Linked DNA regions of Homo sapiens: all the other regions are linked to region 3. Evidence: fine-mapped expression QTL. A gene starts in region 3. Each other region holds a variant in brackets. All regions are shown on one strand. Distances are between the middles of the regions.

Region 1 (8,184 bases), 70 kb before region 3:
ATGCAAATAATCCGTGTCTTCCATGCTTGGGGTCTAAAATGGTTCCCAAGTGGACTTAGATATGTTCCTCTGTGAATTGGCAGGGCATTTTGGAATGGTTCTTTCCTTCCCCTTGATTTGAGGATTACATGGAAATCCACATTGCTGAGTGGGAAAACTCTGAATTGGTGTCCAGCAGTTCTTTTGGCCTCTTCCTCTTAGTTTGGTGATATGTGACGGCAATAAAAGGTCATGATGGCAGGATGAGTCTGGAAAAGGAGAAATACTGGCAGTGATACTGCAATCTATTTTGCAAGAAAGAGAATTTTATTTAACCACATGATTTTAAAAATTGGCAAAGTTGCCGGGTGCAGTGCCTCACGCCTGTAACCCCAGCACTTTGGGAGGCCAGGGTGGGTGGATTCATCTGAGGTCAGGAGCTCGAAACCAGCCTGACCAACATGGTGAAACCCCATCTGTACTAAAAATACAAAATTAGCTGGGCATGGTGGCACACGCCTGTAATCCCAGCGACTCGGGAGGCTGAGGCAGGAGAATCACTTGAACCCAGGAGGCGGAGGTTGCAGTAAGCCGAGATTGTGCCATTGCACTCCAGCCTGGGCAAGAAGAGTGAAACTCCATCTCAAAAAAAAAAAAAAAAAATTGGCAAAGTTCAGTTAATGTATATATATAAAATGACAACATAAGTGCATTTTAGAATGTAGCTAGAAAAATTTTAATAAGGAATAAAACATGTCTAGATGGGAGTCTTCAGAATCACGTACCAGATTCCTGGCAAGGTATTGTAAAAGTCATACAGTACATGTTTTCCTAACTCTATGTCATCTAACTTCATTATTAGAATCTTAATAAAATTTAGTGTTGAGTGAAAACAAATCCCTAAAGTGTAACCAAATATATTTGCTCAGGCCAGACTTAAGCCTCAGCGGAAGGTTTTGTAAGCTCTTACGGTGGAAGGGATCTTTTTCTTCTTCCTGTTAGCATCTCAGAGGAGCTGAGTCTAGCAGAGCAGCTGCTAACAGAGGAAGCTGGGAAAGCCAGGCTTGGCGTCCCAAAGGAGCGGCAAGATGAAAGCATGCAATCCTCCATACAGGCCTGCAAATGCCAGGTGGATGACCACCATGTCCTTACACTCAGGCCATGGCATGCATATGGCCAGGGACATACATTTAGTAGGCACTGTATAATGAATGAACGAACCCTACAGTGTGGTGGAGTGCAGTGTTGTCCAACTTACTGAACTAAGTTGAACCCTATCCATTAATTTCTTATTGGATTAAGAAATTCATTATTTTTTAATAACACTATTATTGGATTAAGACATCAATTTCATGGTCACGACATATTTTAATGGAATAGGAAACAATATCCTAGAAAATAAAGGGGTATGTCACCCATATTAAAAGCAAGTATGAGTTTATGAAACTTTTCACACAAGTGTGTGTGTTATGAGTGTGTGTGTTTCTACTGGATTATGATGTAAAATGTATTTCTGAGGGTATCACTTAAGAAAGATTGAGCACTGTTGGTGGAGTGGAAACTATTTGAGGCATTTGGGTCAGATAGATCTTGATTTGAATTCCAATGCCACTGTCAGACACTGAGCGTGTTACTTAAATCCATCTGAGCATCACATATGCATTTAAAGTCAACCATATGGTACGCACTGTGCTCAATGAGGGAGATACAGTGGTGAGTAGGACATACTCCTGTCCTCAAAGAAACACAAAATATGCCCTTAATAAGTGTCCACCTCTCTTCAGCACTTCAGTATCTCTGTGACTGGTTGGTAAGACAGATGTCTGGATAAAAAGAGATCTTGGAGAATCTCAATACTGCTTGAGGTTCTTCAGGAGCCCAGGAATCCTAATTTTTTCTTTGCTCTGTCTTCTTTCTTCTTAAGCATGGCAACAACTCATAGGTAGGAAAAGCTGTCATACTCATGCATTTTGAGGGAAATTTGAGAAATATCAATACCCAAAGCTTCTACATGGAGCCATTCATGTTATCCAGTCTTTGTTTCCAGAATCATCGTAGGACCCTGATGAGAGTAGCACCAACTCTCCAACATAAATTCGAGAAAATGAAAAAGTGGCATTGAATATCTACACGGAACTTCAGAAATACAACACACACACACACACACACACACACACTCATACACACAAACTCATGAGCAATCATAGTAATTTGAACAACAACAAAAACCATGATGTTGAAATTTGGAGGATGTAGAACCTAAGAGTCTAAGAAAGATTAATTTATGCTACCAACAAACACACGTTTAAATTGTGGGAAAAAAGCATGGTGGCAACGCAACACTACTCTCTCAAGACACAAAGCAGGTCAGACGTGGTGGCTCACGCATGTAATCTCAGCACTTTGGGAGGCTGAGGCAAGCAGATTGCTTGAGGCCAGCAGTTCAAGACCAGCCTGGCCAACATGGTGAAAACCCGTCTCTACTAAAAATACAAAAACTATCTGGGCATGATGGCACATGCCTGTAATTCCATCCTCTTGGGAGGCTGAAGCATGAGAATTGCTTGAACCTGGGAGGCAGAGGTTGCAGTGAGCCGAGATTGCACCACTGCACTCCAGCTTGGGTGATAGAATGAGACTCCGGCTCAAAAAATAAATAAATAAAAGACATAAAGCAAGTTTAAATTCCTGTAGTGCCAGCCAGATAATCAAGGCTGGAAACAGAGTGGCACATCACAGCTCTGTCCCCTCTGTCCACCCCTCCAAGGGCACGCAGAATTTAGTTGACCTACCAGCTGCCAAAATCATGGGCCAACTTCATTTTGGGGTGCTCTACCCACCAAGTAGCTCTCTCAGGGAGGGGTGCAGAACAATCATAACCTGCATCTATTGGCAGCTCACACGGTGAAAAATTATGAACTAGGCAAGTTTTGTCCTTGGAGTCTGCAGCTGACCCTTCCGCACCTGTTCCTTTACTAACAATATCCTCATTTTCGCTCTGCCAAGCACGCCCTCCCTCACATTAAAACTTGCTTTCAAATCATCAGATATCCTTCACTGAGAATTGAACATGCATGAGTTTCATAGGTCACTTCTTTCAGAAGTATTTACATGTTAAATCTGGCTCTCCATATGAAATGGGCGGCTTTATTGGTGAAAGAATTTTTTTGTACATTAGCAAGATATTTAGGGTGGCAGTGAGAACAGAGGCCCTTTTCATGGCCCCGAAATAACTACACCATGCAAGAGGCTGACGACATCATGGTAACGATGATGTGCTAGTCAGACTAGACTGGGCCTTAATGATAAACACTTGCCATCCGTCAGGAAGGGGTGAGAAGTCACCTAAGGTGAAATGAATTATGATGTAAACAAGGTTTGTCTTCAACATCCCCCCACCTCCTGTTTAAGGATCAGTCTTCCGGACTGGGACCCTAGTAGCTCATAGGCTCTCCTTTGAGTCATTAGGGCCATCTAGTCATCCACTCTAGAGCTTCCCTGCACGCAAGCCATTTATCCTCCAGGCCACTCCTCATCTCCTTCTCCTTTTCATCAAATGTATCTGCTATGCGTCCTATTCTATCAATGTTCATTCACTACCAGTCCACATGAAACTGCAATTTGCTCGTCACTGTAAATAGAATTGTGGTATGTAAGATGGAGAGAGTATCTGAAATGAAACAATAACTCTAATGTTGAGACTATCAGCTTCCAGGGAAGCCTAGGGTGGAAGATAACTGGTGATGATGCCTGTAAGGTTAAGAAGCTATAAGGAATCCTCAAGTCCGCCTGTATTTTTGAGTACTTTCTAATGGTGCAGAGTTAGGCTTTGTTGGAGATATAAAGAGGTAGACACGGCCCCTCATCCCGGGAGTTTGCAATCAAGCAGGTGGGATGGTGAATTAGGCCATTCTTGCATTGCTATAAAGAAATACCTGAAGCTGGGTAATTTATAAAGAAAAGAGGTTTGATTGGCTCACAGTTCTGCAGGCTTTACAGGAAGAATGGTGCTGGCATCTCCTGGGCTTCTGGGGAGGCCTCAGGAAGCTTACAATCACGGCAGAAGGTGAAGGGGGAGCAGGCACGTTATATAGTGAGAACAGGAGCAAGAGAGATGGGAGGAGGAGGGGCCACACACTTTTAGACAACCAGATCTCGCCAGAACTCACTATGGCGAGGCCAGCCCCAAGAAGATGGCATTAAATCATTCATGAGAAATCCACTCCCATGATCCAAACACCTCCCACCAGGCCCCACCTCCAACACTGGGTATCATGATTCAACACGAGATTTCGAGGAAACAACACCCAAACTATATCAGACGGAGATCTTGGGAGCCAGGCACTTGCATCCACCACTTTAAATAATCTTATTATTTAATTGTGGTGGTATCATTATCTAACTTTGCAGACAAGGAACCAAGGCTCAGAGGAGTAAACTATTTTTATCCAAGGTGAGTCTCTCTCCAAGGGGCTGACTAGTGCCTCTCTTAGGACAGTAGCAAGTTGGAATAAAATCTGGCATGCCTAAGGTCTTTAAGGAACAGGGGATGCTTACTTCTTTTGCGTTCCTCTGGCGGCCTACATAGCATACTTAAGCTCCTTCTGGATAGACTGTGTCCTCTTATTCACATGCTGAAGTTGTTATATATTTTTAAACAAATAAAAAGTGAATAATACATTTTTCTAAAAAGTAACTGATTTTCTCTAGGTTCCATACAGATAGCCAGCCATGGGAGTCAGAATTTGAACTCAGATCTGGTCTGGTTCTGAAGCCTCTCTTCTTTCCAGCTGTGAGACAAAGGAGCAAATATGAGAAGCACCTTTTGCTCACTTCTGCTTGCCAGCAGAATTTCACAAAAGCCCTGGACTGTGAAGATGTTTGGAAAGATGCTTTGAAGACAAAACCTTTAACAGGGTTAGTGTTTATGCCTCTGTAATCTACAACC[G/A]GATGCGCTCTTACACCCAAGCCTTGATGGGATTCTGCTGCGACGGAAATTCTGAGCAAATTTGATGTGATTGTGCAGGTACTGAACCTCCACTTCCTGTCTGTAAGCAGTGGGCTGAAATCCTGGGCTGGAGCAGTCTCATAGGATCTGACAGGCTGTTGCCAGGCTGTAGGCCTTGGTCTGTAGTCCTCAGTAAGACTTCTGAATACAACTAACTTTAATTCTTTAAAAGCTTGACTGTTTTCTTTAGTCGGCATGGCATTCCATACCATTCCAGAAACAGAAGCCAGGAGGATACGTGAAGGAGAGAGCAATGGCATAGTGTGTGAAGCTGATTAGCTGTTAACTAGCAGAACTGAGAGAAGGCAGCCGGCCAAATGCCCCGGAGGGGCAAGGAAAAGCTTTTTCAGAGAGTTGGGAAGTGGCACTCCAGTGAGGTCGGAAGCCATGAAGGTTGACTTATTTATTCCACAGTAGCTACAAGAAGAGGGGTCTTTCTAGGGAGTGTGACCAGTTTAAGCAAAGGCTTGGGAGGAGGAATAATAACGTGCTGGAAGTGGGAAAGGGGACCTGGTTAAGGGGCTGAAAGTTATTCCTTGTGGATCACCTTCTCATCACACGCTCTTTGACCTCATTGTAGTTCAATGGAGGGAAAGAGAGTCAAAAGCAGGAGGGAAGTTTGTTTCTAAGCGGACAGGGGCTCAGCAAACCCAGTCTTCCCCGCAGTCTTACCTGGAGCCATTGCCTGGGGAAGAGGGTGTTCAGGCCACAGTATCCCAAGGCTGGGGGCACCTTTGCTCAGAAGCCCCCTGTGGTGCTGCTCCTCAAGAGCCTCCTGGGAGGAAGGGCCAGGGAGCCAGGCGGTTCTCCCTTCCCCTTCTGGAATCCTGGCCAGTTTCCATGTACATAACCCAGCTTAATCCATAGAAACAGGAGCTGCAAGGCATGTTCTTTCTCTTTTTTTCCTCTCCAAGACACGGAAACCTTTATTTTCTCCCTACATCACAAACCGGTACTGTTAAATAATATTGGATAATTGCACCTGTCGTACTCCCCATATTGTGCTGGGGAAAAATAATTGCTGGTTTTCTGCTTTGCCGTTTAGCTGTGACTCCGTCATTTGACTCGGAGCATGTCATTTTCTCCCATTTTAGACCGTGTACAGTCAAACCCTGTGAAAGGACTCACAGATAGCGGCCCTGCGTGTATGAGTGGGCGCGGGCCTCATTCAGCAACGATTTCTAATTTATACAGCATTGAATATCCACAGCTATAAATAAACAGTTCTGACTGGCTTTGCTGCCTACTCAAATGCTTTATTAAAAAAAAAAAAGTCACCAGCAACTGCATGAGAAAGGAAAACAAGAATGTCTGGATGTGGATTCTGGCTTCTGAATCCTGGGCTTGGGAGTGGAGACGCCCCACCTTGGGAGCGGCTCAGTGCTCAGCCCCTCCAGTTTTTGGAAGGCCTGGCCTCCTCGCTCCTCGCTCAGCCCCTCACGCTCCCCACGTGTGGGTGCAATGTGTTTGGGGATTACAGTATATGAAACTGGCTTCCTGTTATGACAAGTATTGCAAGTGAGTAGGTGTGGAGGAGCTGAAAATAGCTTAAGAAATGTAGGACCCTTCTGGGGAGAGAATGGGGTTAAGGCATTGTTTAGGCAACAAGACGAATCTTCTACCCAAATTCAAAATTGGTTTCAAATGTGAGACAGCAACACTGGAACAGAAGCATGAGTATAGGCCAGTCCCTGGGGTAGTGGTGGCAGCGTCCTTCCTCCTCCTGTAACGGGGACAGTTTCCACCAATTTGGGATCTCTTGACCACCTTCTTTTGTCCAGCTCTGCAAGATGTGGACACATTTCTGTTTTGTTTTTTAAATAAAGTTTTTGGATGACCCGGTACTGCTTTGCTCTGTAAGAAAGAGGAAGGAAAGTGGGCTCAGGAGTCAACTATCCATGTGACCTTGGACTTGTCATTTCCCTGCTCTGAACGCAGAGGTGTGCTGGAGCCAGTTTGCACAACAGGCTCTCGAGGACTAAGTGGTTGTCCACATCTCTTCCCAACTGTACATTCAGCAACGTGCTGCCAGCTTGAAAAAGGCCATGGGGAGAGTGTTTACACCATGGAAATGAGCACACATTATCAATCAGAGCCTGACATCTTTTCCCCAGAGAGCTGGTTGTTAAACCTTTCCCAGCACACCACCCTCAGAAACTCAGTTTGCTCATTTGTAAAATGAGAACGTAACTCATCTCCTACTTACGAAGTTTCCGTGGGCTAGAATAAGTGGGAGTGGTGATGAATTACTTGACACTACACAAATATTGCTGGTATCATCATGTGGTTGCTATAGTTGTCATTTTCTATTAAGGGCCTAACATAGTGCTATGCAATCTGCAAATACCATATACCTTTTAGCAAATGTTTAATCAGTGTGTTATTGTTTTGTTGTGTATCTTTTCTTAAGCTACTGCAGCACCGAGCATGCCCTTGTGTGCTTAGGCATGTGCTCAATGGGAAATTGTTCCGAGACATTTCTAGTGTTGGAAGAGATATTGCACAATGGCCAGGCATGCTGCAATCAAGGTTTAATTTGGTCCTAGGGCCAGTAAAGCCACAAATAGAAATTTGCAGGCTCATCCCCACCAAGAGCTTACTGTGACTGAGAGTTACGCAGCCCGAGTCACCTCTGGGGTGTGGAACATTTGGGTGATCCCCCGAGGGCTTCACGTTTGGGGAATTTCCACTGTGGCAACTGTTTCTGAGCTCCTGCTGAGACCAGGTGCTTGGAGCAGTGAAGAGGCAGCAGTAGATGTGGGGAAAGAGGTGGTATTCCCAGCTCCAACTGGAAAAGACTTGAGGCCCATATTAACAGAACAGTAGAAAAAGAAGTGGGAATTAAGCAGGTTTCTTGGTGCCTGCCCTGGTCTTCCCTTAGGCTGCCTTCCCACCTGAGATATTCTGTCCTCTTCTGTAACCCTTCAAGACCACTCTTGCTCATTTTTACCAGATTTCTCCTACATAATGTTAGGTTGGGAAGTCCAAGTCCAATTTCCTTCAGTGTCCACACCCCAACCCATATGAGCCTAGTGACATACTAGTAGACTCAAATATGTCTACCCACCAATAGCCATTTGCCATTTGTGTTCTTTAAAAAATGTGCCCACAAATAAAGGCCAGGAAAATAACACTAGGAAAATCACAGCAGGGATCATGAATCCTTGTTAAGCATCTGGAAATCAGCTTTGTTAAAC
Region 2 (8,184 bases), 60 kb before region 3:
GACTTGAAGTCCTGTTTGTGGCCCCTTAATTACACTGATTTCCTAGGATGGCCACCTCTTGATCATGCAGTCCTCATGGCTATCCTTGTATTCATCTCATGCAAAATTTTCAAGATCAAAACTCTGTCTTCTTCGTCTGCTCCTCATCAATCTAGACTACCCCAGTCACTTCAGCCGAGGCTTATTGTTTATCAAGCTTTATGGATTTCACGTTGTTTTCATTGGTGTGTCTACTTCTTTCTCTTCTGTTTTTCCCTTTTTTTTTTTTTTTTTTTTTTGAGACAAGGTCTTTGCCCAGGCTGGAATACGGTGGCACAATCTCAGCTCACTGCGGCCTTGAGCTCCTGGGCTGAAGTCCTCCAACCTCAGTCTCCTGACTAGTTGGCACTAGAGGTGCACACCACCATGCCCAGCTTTTTTTTTTTTTTTTTTTTTTTTTTTTTTTTTGCTTTTTTATTAGATACAGGGTCTCACTATGTTGCTCAGGATGATCTTGAACTCCTGGCCTCACCACAAGGGATCCTCCCATCTCAGCCTCCCAAAGTGCTAGGATTACAGGCAAGAGCCACCACCCTTGGCCTTATTTTCCATTTTTGATGTGAATTCTCTCCTCCCTAGTTAGGGCTTCTCTACATTAGGTCTATAAGTACAAGCACAGTACCTCCTTTTTCTGTAGAGTATACTCTGGGCCTTTAATGAATTCTTTTTCAATTAAATAACCAGCTCACATACAAGAGGGACAATATAAACTTGGTCAATATAAACTTCTCAAATTTCTACCCCGCAGTCACTCTGAGGATTCCTAAAACTTTCTTTTATCCATGTTGTTTACCAATCCCCAAGCCCTCAAGCCTAACTGTAATAATAACCTCAGTCCTTCCACCCCAGGTGTTGAGGACTGAAGACTCCCTTCTCCATTTAAGAAATGCAACAGAACACGAAGGTTTGGAGAAAAGCCACCCAGGAGCAGACATGGTGGTATGAAGCTCTGCTGGGGGAGGACAGCAGGTGGTTCCCTCCATTGGATTAGAGTCCTCTGTCCAAAACCAAGTAGCTAGGAGGAACACTCAGAAATGCCCACATACCCATCCACATGCTAGAGAAGGCACTGTTCCCAAATGGGTCTCTGTGGTGCTCCCAAAGTCATTTTATTCTGTAGGGACTCATGTGGCGTGAACGTTGCAAAAATCATGTTTCTTTTTGCTTCTAGCAGCTGGGAATGGCAAGCGGGTCTTAGTCTTGAATTCTCACAGAGCTAAGCAGTTTGTAGGCTTCTTTAAGTCTTCAAAATTTATCTCTGACCATGCTTTTTTTCTTTTTCTTTTTCTTTTTTTTTTTTTGAGACAGGGTCTTCCTCTGTCACCCAGGCTGGAAGGCAGTGGTGTGATCTTGGCTCACTGCAACCTCTGCCTCCCAGATTCAAGTGTTTCTCCCACCTCTCAGCCTCCCGAGTAGCTGGGACTACAGGTGTGCGCCACCACACGTAGCTTTTTTTTTTTTTTTTTGTATTTTTAGTAGAGATGGGGTTTCACCATGTAGGCCAGGCTTCTCTTGAACTCCTGAGCTCAAGTGATCCACCCGCCTCGGCCTCCCAAAGTGCTGGGATTACAGGTGTGAGCCACCGCACCCAGCCTTCTGACCATGTTTCTATAACGCATAGCTGGAAATAAGGAAACTGTTGACTTAATAATAGATCATATATCTTACCCAAACCAAATTCACAAAATGGATTTTAAGTTGTAATTGGAAAATTATGTTTATTATAAATATTTTCTTGATTGAGAAGCATTTTTCCCAGTAGAAAGTATCCTAGTTGGCAGATAGGAAGTTAGATTCACCCCGACTTGTTTTATTCCTTTAACTGCTGTCAGATAGTAGCAAGGGCTAGAAATATTTTTATAGCCCTGATATTTCACCTGATATTCTTGACCAGTTGGTGCTTGGCTGGTGACTTCCAATCGGGCCACTGGAAGCAGATTCCAACAGATTCTAGCCTCCATCTTTGCAAGATCTGAACAGAAACTGCAGGCATGGCCAAGAAATTATTGTTTCAATCAACATCACCATAGATACCATATATAATTATATGCCTTATTATTCCAATAGTTAGAAATCAGGATAAATAAAAACATAGTATTCTCAAAGATTTACACCTATGTATCTACAACCACAAAAATGAATGCCAGGCATTGAAAATTTGAAGAACATTTGCCTAGTTTCAGTGGGCTGACTCAGAAAAGGGCAAGAAAATTGATGGTTGGGGGGATAGCAGGTGTTAGAGAAATGAGATCTGAGCACTGATAGTCCTGTGTTCACACTGCAGAAGTCCAGGGAGGACAGGGAACTGAGGGCTGGCTGGAGAAACTCCTGTGGGAAAGAGGCTGAGGAAGAGGCAGGGAGGGTAATCCACAGCGGGCTCTTTTTGAGTTTAGGGAGATGAAGTTAGGACAAGAAAGGCAAAATGGAGATAAATTTTTGCCATTGACTAAATGCTGCCCCAGTGGGACCATGCTTTAGAAGTACCTGTGGAGTCATCGCATGATAAAATTCTTTTGCTATGGAATAAGCAGAGTTAATAAGACAAACCTCATCTAATTCCTTCATGAATAAAACAAGGAGGTGGATTAGATGGCCTCTAGGCAGCTTTCATCAAGAAAATCTGCCTTTTAAAAAACCTGGTTTATGGCAAATAATATTAAAAGAAAGTTTCCATGTCATTCTGTCCAGGACACACTCCCAGCGCCACTTGGCCAGGCTGGAATTTTCAGCTTACAGTCTGTCCTTAGGATGAGAAGGACCTATGGTCTTAGGGGCCCTGACAAAGGACAGCCTGACTCCTGGCATGTGTCCATCAAGGGGCATAGGGAGAGGGGTCACAGGCCCTGGATAAGCTGACTGTCTCTCCAACCACCCCCACATAGCAGAGGCCCTGCCATTTGGGCCTGGAGGTGTTTAGCCCCTTTCTGTGCCCCATATCTCTTGTGGGATGATTTTCTCTTCCTGAGGAGCTTGTGTGCTGGTGTCAGCATCCTTGTGTGCTATCAATCATCAAAGAAAAAAAAGAAAATTAAGCACATAAGGGGCAGAGAAGGGAGCCTTTGATAGGATGTCCTGATTGCCTCTTGCCCCCAGTCAATGTGGAAGAGAACCTGCCCTGGGCATGCCTGGGTGTTCAGTCATGGTCATGGTGAGCCAAGCTCTCAATGTCTTGCCAGAGACAGCTTCCCCCATCTGCTTCTATCATGGTTTGAAGTTAACATTCCATCTAACTCCTCCCAAAAAGTAGAAATTGAATCTTTCTTGGGGGATGACTGGTCCCAGTAACTGACTCTGTGCTTGCCCAACCCTCTGCCTCATGACACAGAAAGGCTAGCCCAGGGCAGGGAGTGAGATGGTGACAGGTCAGGCCAGGTGGCCCTGAGGAACCTCTTGTGAGCTTTTTGAGCCTCAGTGCATTCTTGAAGGACCTTCCTGTGGGCCATGACAACACTTGCCTCCTTGACGCTCAAAGCCAGTTCCCTGCAACTGAGTGCCCTGGGAGGACCTCATCATACACTTTCCAATTTAACATGTGATTCCCAGTATGGTTTCTTATTGCTGTCCTTCTTGCTCTCTTGTCCATATTCACCCACTGATGTGGCACAGGAGGAGGGAGAAAGTGAGTAGATGTTCAGCTATTGTGACCATCACCACCAACACCCTTCTCAGTCCAGCAGCCCACTCAGGAGAGCACCACACTGCACAAGGATGCCGTAGACAGAATTATCCACATTGGGAGGAGTCCAGGGTCCTGAGATGTAATAGAGCCTTGTCCTCAGACCAGCAGCATCAGTATGTCTGGAGTATGCGTTAGAAGGGCAGAATCTCAAACTGCACCCCAGATCCACTAAATCAGAATCCACACTTTAACAAGATCTCCGGGTTCCCCAAGATCCTCATTTTGATGAGCATCAGAGGCCTATACAGGTTTGAGAAGCGTTGCTCTGTAACAGCGGTTCCGGATCCCGATTGCAAGTTAAAATAACTGGGAAGCTTTAAAAAATACCCATGTCGAGTCACCATCTCTAGAGATATGGATCTAATTGGTCTAAGGCAGGCCTGGGAATTATTATTTTTTAAACTTCCCTAGTGTTTCTGTGATGTAAAAAGCCAAGGTGGAGAACTACTGCTAGAGAGCTACTGTCACATTGAATGGGTCTTGACTGATACTTCGCCTGATGTTCTTGACC[G/A]CTTGGTGCTTGGCTGGTGACTTCAAATTGGGCCACTGGAAGCAGAGATTCCAGTTGTGTCTCAGGATTTCAGAAGCAGAGATTCCAACAGATTCTAGCCTCCAATAGCCTGACCTCCTATTTGCTGTAAGTACCTGAGGACGTGCATCATCTCTGTCCGTCTGCTATCGGGTAGCTGTTACCTTTAATCACTTGCAGCTGGGAAACTGGTAATTTATACATCAACTCAAAGGGGAGAATGAGGGAGAATAAGATGACCAGCAGCAGTGACTAACTGTATGCCAGGTCCTGCTGTAGGCGCTAGATCCTCAGCAAGTCATCTGAGGTTCTCCGTGAGCCCAGGAGGAGGCCACTAGCATTATCTCCACTAGGACAAGAGAAAGCTGGGGCACAGAGACCTTCAGTGTCTCACTCAGTGTCACAGGTACAAGTGGCAGGGCCAAGATAGAGACTGAGGCAGTTTGGCACCAGAACTTTTCTTCTAACCACAGCCCCCGACTGCCTCCCTAAAGCATTCATTTGAATTTCTCCTGTCATCAAAGGGGGCTCAGGCTGTGGAAGGAGGGAAAACATAGGCTTAGCTCTGGCTTTGGACAGAATACGTGGCTATCTATAAGTTTCCAGAACTGAAGATCTGGAGAAAGGCTCACTAGTAGGGGAACCAGTCAACTGAGTGCCCAAGCCTAGACAATATTAAACCTTATGAATACTGGCACAGCAGGAATAGACAGGGATCATCTCAGGCCACCTGGGCTTGGTGGTCACTCTACTTAGAGGCTGTCTGATCACTGAGGAATTGAAGTGCATTGCCACAGAATACATGGTTGGTTTGCGGCCAGGTGAGGGATATACCCTTTTCTTTTTTTTTGAGATGGAGTCTTGCTCAGTCACCCAGGCTGGAGTGCAGTGGCGCGATCTCGGCTCACTGCAAGCTCCGCCTCCTGGTTTCATGCCATTCTCCTGCCTCAGCCTCCCGCGTAGCTGGGACTACAGGCGCCCGCCACCACACCCGGCTAATTTTTTGTATTTTTAGTAGAGACGGGGTTTCACTGTGTTAGCCAGGATGGTCTCGATCTACCGTGGCTTTCTTGATTCCTATTCCAGTGCTCTTTCCCCTGTTTAATACTTTCTGCCCTAACATGCATGTCTTCAACAACTCTCTAACTGGTACGCCTTGTCATCACCCTCCTATACTCCTTAAACTCCCTGCCCAATACTCTACAGCCATTAGAGTCACTCCTTATCTGCTGTCTCCAGAACACCTTTGCAAAAAGTTGTACTTTACACCTAGGAAAAAAGGCCCTTGGATATTCTATTGTCTGCACTGATTGAGGCAACGAGAAAGCTAATGGAAATAGTGGATCTTGAGATGAACAAGACATACCCCTAATTCGTAAGACACCCGAGGTCTAGTGGAAAAACAAATCCCTAAAGCAGTAGTAAAACCGCAGTCATGATAAAATGGTAAGTCTGGTGACTGGGAGGTAAAGGGGGAAGCACTGGGAAGGGCATGAAGTCCAACCTGGGCTGACCAGGGAAGGCTTCCTGGAAGAGGCGAGTGTTGAAATGCATGAGTATGAACCAGGCAAAGACTGGAGGAGACACAGAATCCCGTGGACGTAAGAAACAACATCAACGTGGAGGGAAAACCAGCAGTTTGGTGCCACTGGGGCACACATATAGAAGAGCAAAAGCCAAAGCAGGGACTGGGTCACAGAGGCCCTTGTGTGTCATTCCAAGGGTGTGGACTTTCTTCAGTCAATTGGGGGAAGCCTTAGAAAGTGTTTTCAGTAGAATAGGACATGGGGAAATGTGTTCACATAGGTTATTTAGCTTTCAGCAATGTAAAAGTGTTCACTGCATTGCAACTTTAACAAATCTAATTTTTCTTTAATTCGTATTAAATTATTTATAATTAATAAAGATCTGTTCAAGATTTAATACATTTCTGATCTTATTCTGATGTTAAATAGGACCTTTTACCCTTTCTCTTCTTTAAAAAGTTAAAAATCTAGAAAGACCTCGAGAGGTAAGTACAGTCATTTACAATCGTCTCTTTCTACTTGAAAACTTGCATGTACATGAGGTAGTTGAGGGTCCATATGATGCCAGCTTATCTGTTTATTGAGACCTAATTATAGTTAAAAATTGGATGCAGTACTTAAACAATGAGGCTTGTTAAGAACGTTGTATTGAGAATAGTAATTTCAATAATAATAAATATGATGATAATTTTGTTTTTTAATTCAATGGATGTTTAAAATTCACCATAGAGTAACAATTTAAAAATTAACTCAATACATTATTGAACTCAATACAATTGATTTTAAAAGTTATTGTTCTCTAAGCTCTAAGTAATCAAGTTTTTCTCTGTACTTCCTATATCTTAAAGCTTCTTTAAATATATATAGAGAGAGAGAGATTTGGGGAGGCATCAGAAATCTTTACCCAGAACTTCAAGGAGCCAAAACTAGTTAGAATTATATGTCAACACATCTGAAATGTCAACACATTTTTTTTTTTGCGATAATTTTCTGTGATTTGGAATCCTGATTGGGAAGTAATTTTTAGTATTCCATTTTTTTAAGTGTTTGCTTTCAAAGAGAATTTTGCCCTTGAGAGTTTCTTAAACCAGTCAAATTCTCCAAGAGTAGAAAACATGTGATACATCCAAGTTGCGTGCTTATTTCTCCAGGGTCTCAGCTTCCTCTCAGAAACGCACACTCTGGTACTGAACCTTCTGAAACTGTCAGGTTTTTTTTGCATACACGGGCTTATGTTTTCACACCAGTTCATAGATTGGGCGGAAGATGGCACTTCTGCCATCTCTATTTTGATAGAACAGAATGGCATGTGGGCGAGTGATGTGGGGGACTGGGTGTGACTCTTTGCCATCCTTATATACAGAATCAGGGTAGAGTTCCTGCGCTTCTCCTGGGGTAGGGAAGCAAGTCATGGGTGTTTTACAGCCTGACTTTCTGGTAGTTACTTTTCCAACAATAAAAAAATATTCTGGGGTGGGGTGGGGAGAGAGGAAGCAGGAAGGAGAATGAAATCTTCCATTTTAAAATTAACTAAGTTAAGATGATTTTTTTTTCTTAGGAAGAAGCAACAGGATTGTACCCACCTATAACGAGAAAGCTTAACTTACTGACATATTCTCATTGCTGAAGACTCTGTCTGAATGAGGATTTCAATCTCAAGTCTAGGATGTGATTTCATCTGGTAAATGTCTTATGGAAGGCTGAGGAGCAGCCTAATGAGGTACTGCTGAGTTGGGAGGAGGTGGGAGGAGCTGAGAGGGCTATCTGGACTCACTTCCCTCAAAATGAAACCTTGATATTTTCAAAGCTTGTGTCCCTGGAGCCCTCACTTGGGTTAGGGGGAGACCCCTGATTTTATTTATTCATGCTAGGGATGGTAATACCTTGTTCTCTAGGTCCTGGGCTTTCTAAAGAAGATTATTTTTAGCTCTAAAGTTAAATGACACATTGTTTGGGGGAGGAGGGGAGATCCTTTGATGGGGTCCTTTAAAAGAGTGCCCCACCCCCAACGCTGTCCTCTTGCCTTGGCAGGACCTCTTGGCAGGACCTGTCTGAGTACTTTGGACAAAGACAGTAAGCATCATTGCTTCTGTTTGCGGCTAGTTTTTCTTTCTGTTTCCAGGTGAAGGGGAGAGGCAGACACGGAAGAAGCGCATCTGTAGCTAAGAAAGAAATACACTGACCCCATTTCCAGTGGTTGAGCTTCTCTCCAAGTAGGTAGATGCTGGCGATGAAGACGTAGCTGAGAGAGAAGAAAGCTGCTAGACCCAAGAGGCTGAGTTTGGCAAACACAGGATACACCCAGGTACCCGTCTCAAAGTAGAGCCATAGGATGCTGCAGGAAATAAGAAGTCGTGGTGGTTATAGCAGGAGGAGAAAAACAAGCCATTTTCTCATCAGGATTAATGAGG
Region 3 (8,184 bases):
GCTACAGCAGGGAGAGCAGTGGCTCGACAGTGGTCCTTCTCCAGCTGGGAAGATGGGGCATGCAGCTCGGGGAGGGAGAAATAGTAGCCATGAAGGGGAAGGGGGTGGATGACTCCTGCTGGCCTCCACCCCGCAACAACCTAGGTGCTCAGTGAGGAGACTGATGTTCTACTAAGTCACCCTCCTGCATCACCTTCTCTACCCAGAGAAGTTCACCATCACCTCCCCATCTTCTCTCCCCACTGTCCACTGCCTAACACCCTGCTGACGCCATTCTGAGCGCTTCCCACCTGTCAGATCATTTCTCCCCCATGGCTACCCTATGGTTAGGTACTATTTTTATTTCTATTTGACAGACGTGGAAATGAAAGACACAAAGAAGTGCCTAGCCCAGGGTCTCGGGGGCAGTAAGCAGTGGGACTGAGGTACCATCCCAGAGATCGCAATTGTAACCATTGTGAAATACCACCTCTCCCTCCCAGCAGGGAATCAGTGGCCCCTTCACTGAGGTCAGTTTACTCTCTTATTAGGCAGAGACTCCCATCTGTCCTCTCCTACCTTCACTCTCCTTAGTCAGAAATGGGTCACCCTGACCAATTCTCAATGGCACCTTAGCCACTACCACCAACCCCAGGGGAGTAGCTCAGTGCAACTCGTGTCTGTCTCCTGTCTCCTGTCTGTCTCCCCTTCCAGTCCCCTGGGATAGCTTCAAGGGGAACTGGGGCAATGCTCACAGTGCCAACTGGCACAAAAGGGGGCTTTGCTCTTACAAAGGGGACAAAAATGATACTCAGCCAATTAGAAATTCAAGCTGTTTACGAGGAGGGGTGTAAATTTTCTGGTAATCAGGACTGGATACTAACTTCCCCAAGGTGAGGTAAAATAAATATAAGAATGTGAGCGTAAGTTGTGAGACCTTTATGACTTAATAAACACAACCACCAATTAATTAGTCATGAATGAACACTAATTAATCATTAGGAGACACAACCATTAATCAGCCCATGAATCTCAAGAGCTAGACATTTGCAGGTCCAATATTTCACCTTAAGCAACATATTCGAAATCTACATTAAATCGATCCTCTGAAATACACTCAACCCATCTTCACCAGTTGGGAAGCATTTCATTAGGTCACACTTTCAAGATGACTCCTAATGGAGCTCAGAAAGAAAATCACCACAGGCAAGCCCCTCTCAGCTTATTTACGAGGGCCAGAAGATACCAGAAGAGAGGGACTGCTTGAGGATGCAGAAAGGCTGAGGTCACGTCAACGTACCAAGTCGCAGCTTTTTAATATCTGGGTATCCTGTGCCAGCCACTGTGCTGAATTCAAGGTAGAAATATAGACAGTTAGGGTTGGCAAGGACCTAAGATTAAAAAAAACTTCTGTTTTGGAGCCAAAGTTTGATTGGAATGTTAAGACTCACATGGCAGGGAGAGAGGGAATTAGAAAACAATACTACATATAAATCAGCAGAGACTGAGAGATGCTGTGAAAATCAGAGAAAGGAAAAGGAAATTTGGACTGGAGTTGGTCAGCAAGGATTTGGGAGGAGTATATGTGATTCCCAATGTTCTATGAAAGAAGCAATGTGGTGGAGAGAGGTAAGTAGGCCTTTCTTCTAAGGATAGAGAGAACACCGGGCAGAGAAGTGACAGCAGGAAGCCCAAGGACCAATACTAGTGAGACGCAGTCCTTACTGCAGAAGAGACCAGCCTCCCAGGGAGAGGGAACCCGAAAGGCTGGTTGGGCAGGTGAGCTCTTGAATCGGGAGTTTGACATTGGGTCCATGAGGCAGGAGGGAGCCACTGTGGTTTCCTGAGCGGCAGGCCACACTTTTAGATCCAGGTCATGGTATTAAAAAACAAACCAAAACCAGTGCTTTGAGAAGATTAATTTGGAATCTAAGTGGCTGGATTGGACCATGAATGGACAGTAAAGAGATGATATGGTCATCCAGGTAGGCTTAATATAAGCCTGGAATGAGAGAGACAGTAGTAAGGTTGAAGAAGAAAGGATGAACTTAGTAAAAGGAAAAACTAATAGGATTTGGTAGCTGATCAATCAGGGAAGCAAAATTGGGATTAACACTAGGAAATGATAGTATCATTGACAAGATAAGAGACTTTTCTCACTCTTGGAAAATAAGGGCTCTTGGAAATGTAGGTGAGCTAGAATTAAAAAGTCAGGATCAGTTGTGTGTGTGTGTGTGTGTGTATACAAAGAGGTAAGGGAGCTAGTTAATGAGTGTGGTGATAAATCTATTCTTAGCCACACATAGTGTGAGGTAGGACATTCATACTGGAATTGGATTTTATTAGAAAGTCAGTCCTAACTACAGACACACTTCCCTTTTAGTGGACTGTTTTTCATAGAAAGCCAATAGAGACACAAACCTTAGGGGTGTGTGTGTATGCGCGTGTGTGTGTGTGGTTTTTTGTTGTTGTTGTTTACTGTGGCACTGCTAGTTATACAAAAAACATTTTTTGTTTTGTTTCTGTTTGTTTTTCTCATAAAATTCCATGATTGAAACAAGTAGTCACCTTGAAGTTTTCAAAGACACTAGAGCTGTGTTCAGGGTTCCAATTTTTCAGGCCCAAATCAAGAGGCCACTAACCAACCAGTGAGGAGGAAGCAGCCACTTTGGGCCTCTTTGATTTTAACTCTCTCCATTTCCACGTCCTTAGCATTTCAGAGTGTCACAGTTTCTGACCACATACATTCTCCGCTTGTCAAATGAGGATTACAATTCTGAAAACAGATGTTTATGTGGCACCCAAGATTTTAGTCAAAAACCTCAAATATTAATTCACATCCCCAAATGATTCCCCATTATTAGCTTTTAACTTTAAAAGTATTTTTTTAAGCTATTCCTCAAAGTATTTTTCATAATCTGCTTTTCTCCCATTCATTCACACTTCATCAGAATGCAGTCAGCCAGGTTAGGAAGACAAGAAAGGAGTAAGTCATAAGATTGGTTTTTAAATAGTTGAAAATGTGTATTTGCCATTCGGTTGGGTGATTTGTCCTTTAAGATGGAGCCTGAACCTATAAAAAATTGAGGTGGGAGCTGAACATGGCAAAATGTGTTTGCTTTTCTTAGATAAATCTGTTAGTCTGTGTGTGCTGTAAAATGGCATTATTCCTTCATTGGAAATTACACTTCCTACACACCATACGCCACTCTGCCTTCTCTTCACAGACTTCCCCAAGCAAAGTTCAAAATGCCTCCTGCATTTGTAGTTAATCCCATGGTGAAACCATTAGCATGGTCCCCTCTTTGAGCTCATCTGAAAAGAGCTCCAAGATGAGATTTTTTTTTTCAAGAGAGCATTTAACAATGAGCCAGCATAGAAATGTTAACTATAGATAATTTCCAAATTGGGTTTATCAGAGCAAATTGTTAAGTAAACAAAAAACCCAAAACTCACAAAACGGTGAAGAAGGAAGACAAATAACAAAATTGTGTATTTAATAAAATCCAAAGATGATATGTGTGGCAGCACTGATATTCTAGAGAAATGGATCGGTTCCTGGTACGGACATATGGACTTACCAGATTAAGCAGCGTCATATATTTCCACCTTGCACCATTTGCCAAGATTTTGGGTTTCACCTCGTCTTTTCCTTCCTGTGAGATGTAATAATTGAGGAAAGTATACCAGCTCAGAACAAGGAAGTGGTATATGCATGTAGAAGTCTTCGTCATGGCGAGTGCTGACCGGGGCACCGTGAATGTCTTGAGTACTTTCTGGCGTCCTTCTGTGGGTCACAGCCTAAGTCCAACAGCAGGCCGGAGAGCTACAAACCACACCCCTCTGGGACTGAGAGTTCCAACACAGGCTGAATTTGGTTCTCTTTTAAGCTCCTTTCCTGATAAACTTCAGAGGCAGGATTACTGCTGGTTTTCAGATGCCTGCATTTAGATAATGATAGATAATCTGTAGATTTGCATAAAATACAACATGTGGGCTTTGAGAAGGGCAGGTAGCAATGCAAGAGCTGTACATTGTACTGTTTCACTAGGGCACTGGGGCAGGGGCATGGTTAAATGAAGTAAGCATGAAATACTAGGAAAATCTAGCGAAATACTTCCATGGCTGTAGTCTCTTTTCTTTTCATTTGCATATAACAAGGAAGTTGCAACCTTATCTCTTGAGAAAAGGAGGAGCAGGTTGATAAACCAGATCATGGGTGTGCTTAGGGCATGAACAGTAGAAAGGAAAAGTGTGTTGTAATTTTGCTCCTGAGGTCTCTGAGATTCTAGAAAGTCTGCAACAACCTTTGATCCTCCAGGGAGCAGCTCCAATGGTTTCTTTTCTTTTTTTTTTCACTTTTGTAACTATACCCTAGAGAACCAAGAGTAACCCAGGGCTGTCCTAGACACTCCATTTGCATAGGCATTTCTGTGCCCTGGGAGGGAAGAAGCAGCACAGGAGACCATCCTTACTATGGCCATGACCCCAAAATACCTGACTTTAGACATTGCTGGGAGAGGGTGAGAGTCCCCGCTCTGCCATGAATAGGATGAGACGTGGCTGGGCTAGGCAGCATGCCGGACTAGGCTCTGACTCAGGTTCCACAGAAGGGAACTGAGGAAGAACTAGAAGTGGATGCCTTGTGACATCGCCAGCTTGTTTCCCTGGGCAACTGACTCCGAGGGGTGAGCAAATCCCTCAGAGAAATGCTCCTGACACAGTTATGTAAGTCTGTAATTGGTGCTTTTCAATGACTTAACCAGGGCTTAAAAGTACTAGCAGAAAGAACTGTAGGCTGGACAAGGAGGACAAACCATAAACAAACCCACCTCCTAAGAGTCAACAGACTCCCAATATCAGGATTGGGAGATGGGAGGAGAGCAAACCTGAGCCCGCCATGGAGTTCTGCATTGTAACCATGTTTTTTTTTTTTTTTTTTTTTTTCATCTGTTGGGGCTGCTATAACAACATACTGTAAACTGGGAAGCTTGGAAACAACAGAAATTTATTTCTCAGTTCTGGAGGCTGGAAGTCCAACATCAAGATGCTGACAGAGTGCCTGGTGTTTAATGTGGGTCGGTTTCCTGGTTCATAAATAGTGCCTTCTGGCTGAGTCCTCATGTGGTAGAAGGGGCAAACAAGCTCCCTGAGGCCTGTTTTATAAGGTCACTAATCCCATTCATGGAGATGCTGCCCTCATGACCTAATCACCTCGGAAAGCTCCCCTCTCCTAATGCCATCACCCTGGGAGTTAAGATTTCAACATAGGAATTTGCAGGGAACACAAACATAGACCATAGCAAACCATTCTCAAAGGAAGGGGTGATCTGGGAAATGGGTACATAAAACTCTGTACAAAACTCCACAGCCTGGGCTAAATTGCAAATAATAACAGAAGCTAATACTTTTATAGTACTTACTGTTTGCTAAACATTGTTCCAGTTGCTTTACACATATTAGCTGATTAGCACTCTAAATAACACTATGAGGTAAGTACTATTACGAATTAAGTACATTTTCAGATGAGGAAATTGAAGCCCGATCTGCTAAAAGGATGTGTTCAACACTTTGTAAGAGGCAGAGCTGCCGTCTGAACTCAGTGTGATGGTTAATATTGAGTGTCAACTTGATTGGTTCGAAGGATGCAAAGTATTGCTGCTGGGTGTGTCTGTGAGGGTGTTGCCAAAGGAGATTAACATTTGAGTCAGTGGATTGGGAGAAGCAAACCCACCCTCAGTCTGGGTAGGCACCATCTAATCAGCTGCCAGCGTGGCTAGGATAAAGCAGGCAGAGGAACGTGGAAGGACTAGACTTGCTGAGTCTTCCGGACTTCATCTTTCTCCCATGCTCTCAGGATGCTTCCTGCCCTCGAACATCGGACTGCAAGTTCTTCAGCTTTTGGACTCCTAGATGTATACCAATGGTTTGCCAGGGACTTTCGGGCCTTTGGCCACAGACTGAAGGCTGCACTGTTGGCTTCTCTAATTTTGAGGTTTTGAGACTCGGACTGATCCACCACTGGCTTTCTTGCTCCTCAACTTGTAGACGGCCTGTTGTTGTGATTGTGTGTCACTTCTTAATAAATTCCCCTTCTTATATACATACATCCTATTAGTTCTGTCCCTCTAGAGAACCCTAATACAACCAGTGTACCTGCCTACAAAGGAACAATGTTGCTCTGCACACTCTCAGACTCCCACTTTGATATTTCTCCTCTCCCTACTGAGTGCCCCTTTTTTTTTTTTTGAGATGGAGTCTCGCTCTGTCGCCCAGGCTGGAGTGCAGTGGCGCGATCTCGGCTCACTGCAAGCTCCGCCTCCCGGGTTCACGCCATTCTCCTGCCTCAGCCTCCCGAGTAGCTGGGACTACAGGCGCCTGCCACCACGCCCGGCTAATTTTTTTTGTATTTTTAGTAGAGACGGGGTTTCACCGTGTTAGCCAGGATGGTCTCGATCTCCTGACTTCGTGATCCGCCCATCTCGGCCTCCCAAAGTGCTGGGATTACAGGCGTGAGCCACCGAGCCCGGCCGAGTCCCTTTTATTCTTCTCTCCTCTCATCAGAAAATTATCTCAGAAAAGGATCAATATGTTTTGAAACTTGGTGCACATATGAATGAATGAATGTCTCCAAGGGTGTTTTCATTTTAGACACCATTGTTGATTTAGAGGTTTTATTCCTTTATACAAAAAAAAATCTCAAGTCTAAGTCTGCAGATGGGTAAGGATTGACGCAAAGGTAGGAAAGGAGGGGAAGACAAAGACCCAAATCTCTGAGATGTGTGTGTCCAAACCTGGACACTGGCCTTTCACCACCTAGATGGTTTTTTTCTCTACGTTAGCCTCATTGCCCACAGATGGGGCCTCTCATAAATATTGATAAAATTATTTAAATTTATTTGTAAGAGTTTTAGTGTTTTACATTGGGATCCAATGAATTGTTAGCATTTTAATAAATAATGACATTAATATATAAGGATTTAATAACATGTAATATCATTTTAATACATATTAATAATTAATAAAATGATATTTTAATAAATAACATGTATATGTATATAAGGATTTAATAATTACATGTAATATATGTATATAAGGATTACATTATGAGTTAAGGATTATGAATTAAGAAATAGTTTTATTTCTTAAGAAATATTTTAATATTTTAAGAAATAAAACTATTTCTTAATTCAACATCTGCATTTTCTTATAAACTTTTCACAAAATTGTTGCCAATGAAAAATCTACATTGCAACCATATTCACATCATAATTTGTGTTCCTGGTTGAATAACCAGATCCATTTTCATGAAGTAGCCTGAACATCTGTTCCCCACCATGAGACCAGGTGGAGCTTTGGAGAGCAATGAATGTCACCTCTTAGTTGCACGTTATAAACTAATACATACTAAGCGTGCTGTTTGTCTGCCTTTTCCTTTCTCCAAGTATCTGAGGGCTTCACGTCATATCCAGGAGAAGTGGGAAGGAATTGTTCAAAACTTTTATTATTTTACACAGGAAATTTTAAACATTTAAAAATAAGCATATTTCATACTTTGATTTGGATACTACACAGGCCACTTGGTTACTAAGAGTGACTTTCTTTGAAACTCTCTACCCCCCTGGGAGTCCGCAACATGATTCTTTAATTTCACAAATACTTATTAAGCAACAGCTATCTGCTAGGTCCTGGGGATTCCCCGAGGAAGAAGAGCGATGCAAACCCTGCCCTCATGGAGCTTATATTTTAGCAGGAAAGATGAACATTAAGCAACAACAAAAACAAGTGTTAATTTATAACTATGGCAACTTCTGTGAAGGACAAACACAGCAGACTTATTAGAGGGGATGGCAGTATCAGACCTGGTGTGGGTAGGGCGTCAGGGAAGCTAGCCCTAAGGAAGCCACGTATGAGCAAGGCTTATTCTCCCAACATGCTCTTACTATCCTTCTCAGTCTGTTTAATGAGCTCCTCTTCCTCCACCAGCTCCTTCTGTGTTGGCATTCCCCAGAGAGCTGGTCCAGCTTACCGTCCGTCTCCCAACACATACTCACCCTAGTGATTTTATCCATGATCATAATTTCTACCACTGCCTTCCAGTTTGTGACCACAAATTATATACCTCTGGTCCAGGCCCTCTCCCTATCCCCACCAAGCTTCAAACACATCTTTGACTACCTGTTGGAATCTCCTGAAGGAGACAGA

What was found. PIP is the estimated chance that this variant, and not a neighbour inherited with it, causes the effect.
Region 1: its variant is fine-mapped to the expression of ADTRP in whole blood (TOPMed, PIP above 0.99). The same link has a PIP of 0.9 or more in blood mononuclear cells.
Region 2: its variant is fine-mapped to the expression of ADTRP in whole blood (TOPMed, PIP above 0.99).

Annotation. Positions count from the first base shown.
Region 1 is chr6:11,705,394-11,713,577 of GRCh38, forward strand. It overlaps ADTRP (androgen dependent TFPI regulating protein), which reads right to left. Exons shown (of 6, transcript NM_032744.4): 6 at 8,130-8,184. LOC340184 (a long non-coding RNA gene) reads left to right here. Exons shown (of 3, transcript XR_001743973.2): 3 at 4,690-5,006. It overlaps LOC124900221 (small nucleolar RNA SNORA67), which reads left to right and starts at 4,426; the gene lies at 4,426-4,567. RefSeq lists an enhancer at 6,247-6,296. The variant G/A (reference allele first, on the strand shown) is at 4,928.
Region 2 is chr6:11,715,393-11,723,576 of GRCh38, forward strand. ADTRP (androgen dependent TFPI regulating protein) reads right to left here. Exons shown (of 6, transcript NM_032744.4): 5 at 7,957-8,108. Among named protein-coding and RNA genes, the nearest start is that of ADTRP, 59 kb to the right of the region's middle. RefSeq lists an enhancer at 6,822-8,021. The variant G/A (reference allele first, on the strand shown) is at 4,230.
Region 3 is chr6:11,775,047-11,783,230 of GRCh38, forward strand. ADTRP (androgen dependent TFPI regulating protein) reads right to left here and starts at 3,757. Exons shown (of 6, transcript NM_032744.4): 1 at 3,561-3,757. The coding sequence starts at 3,713.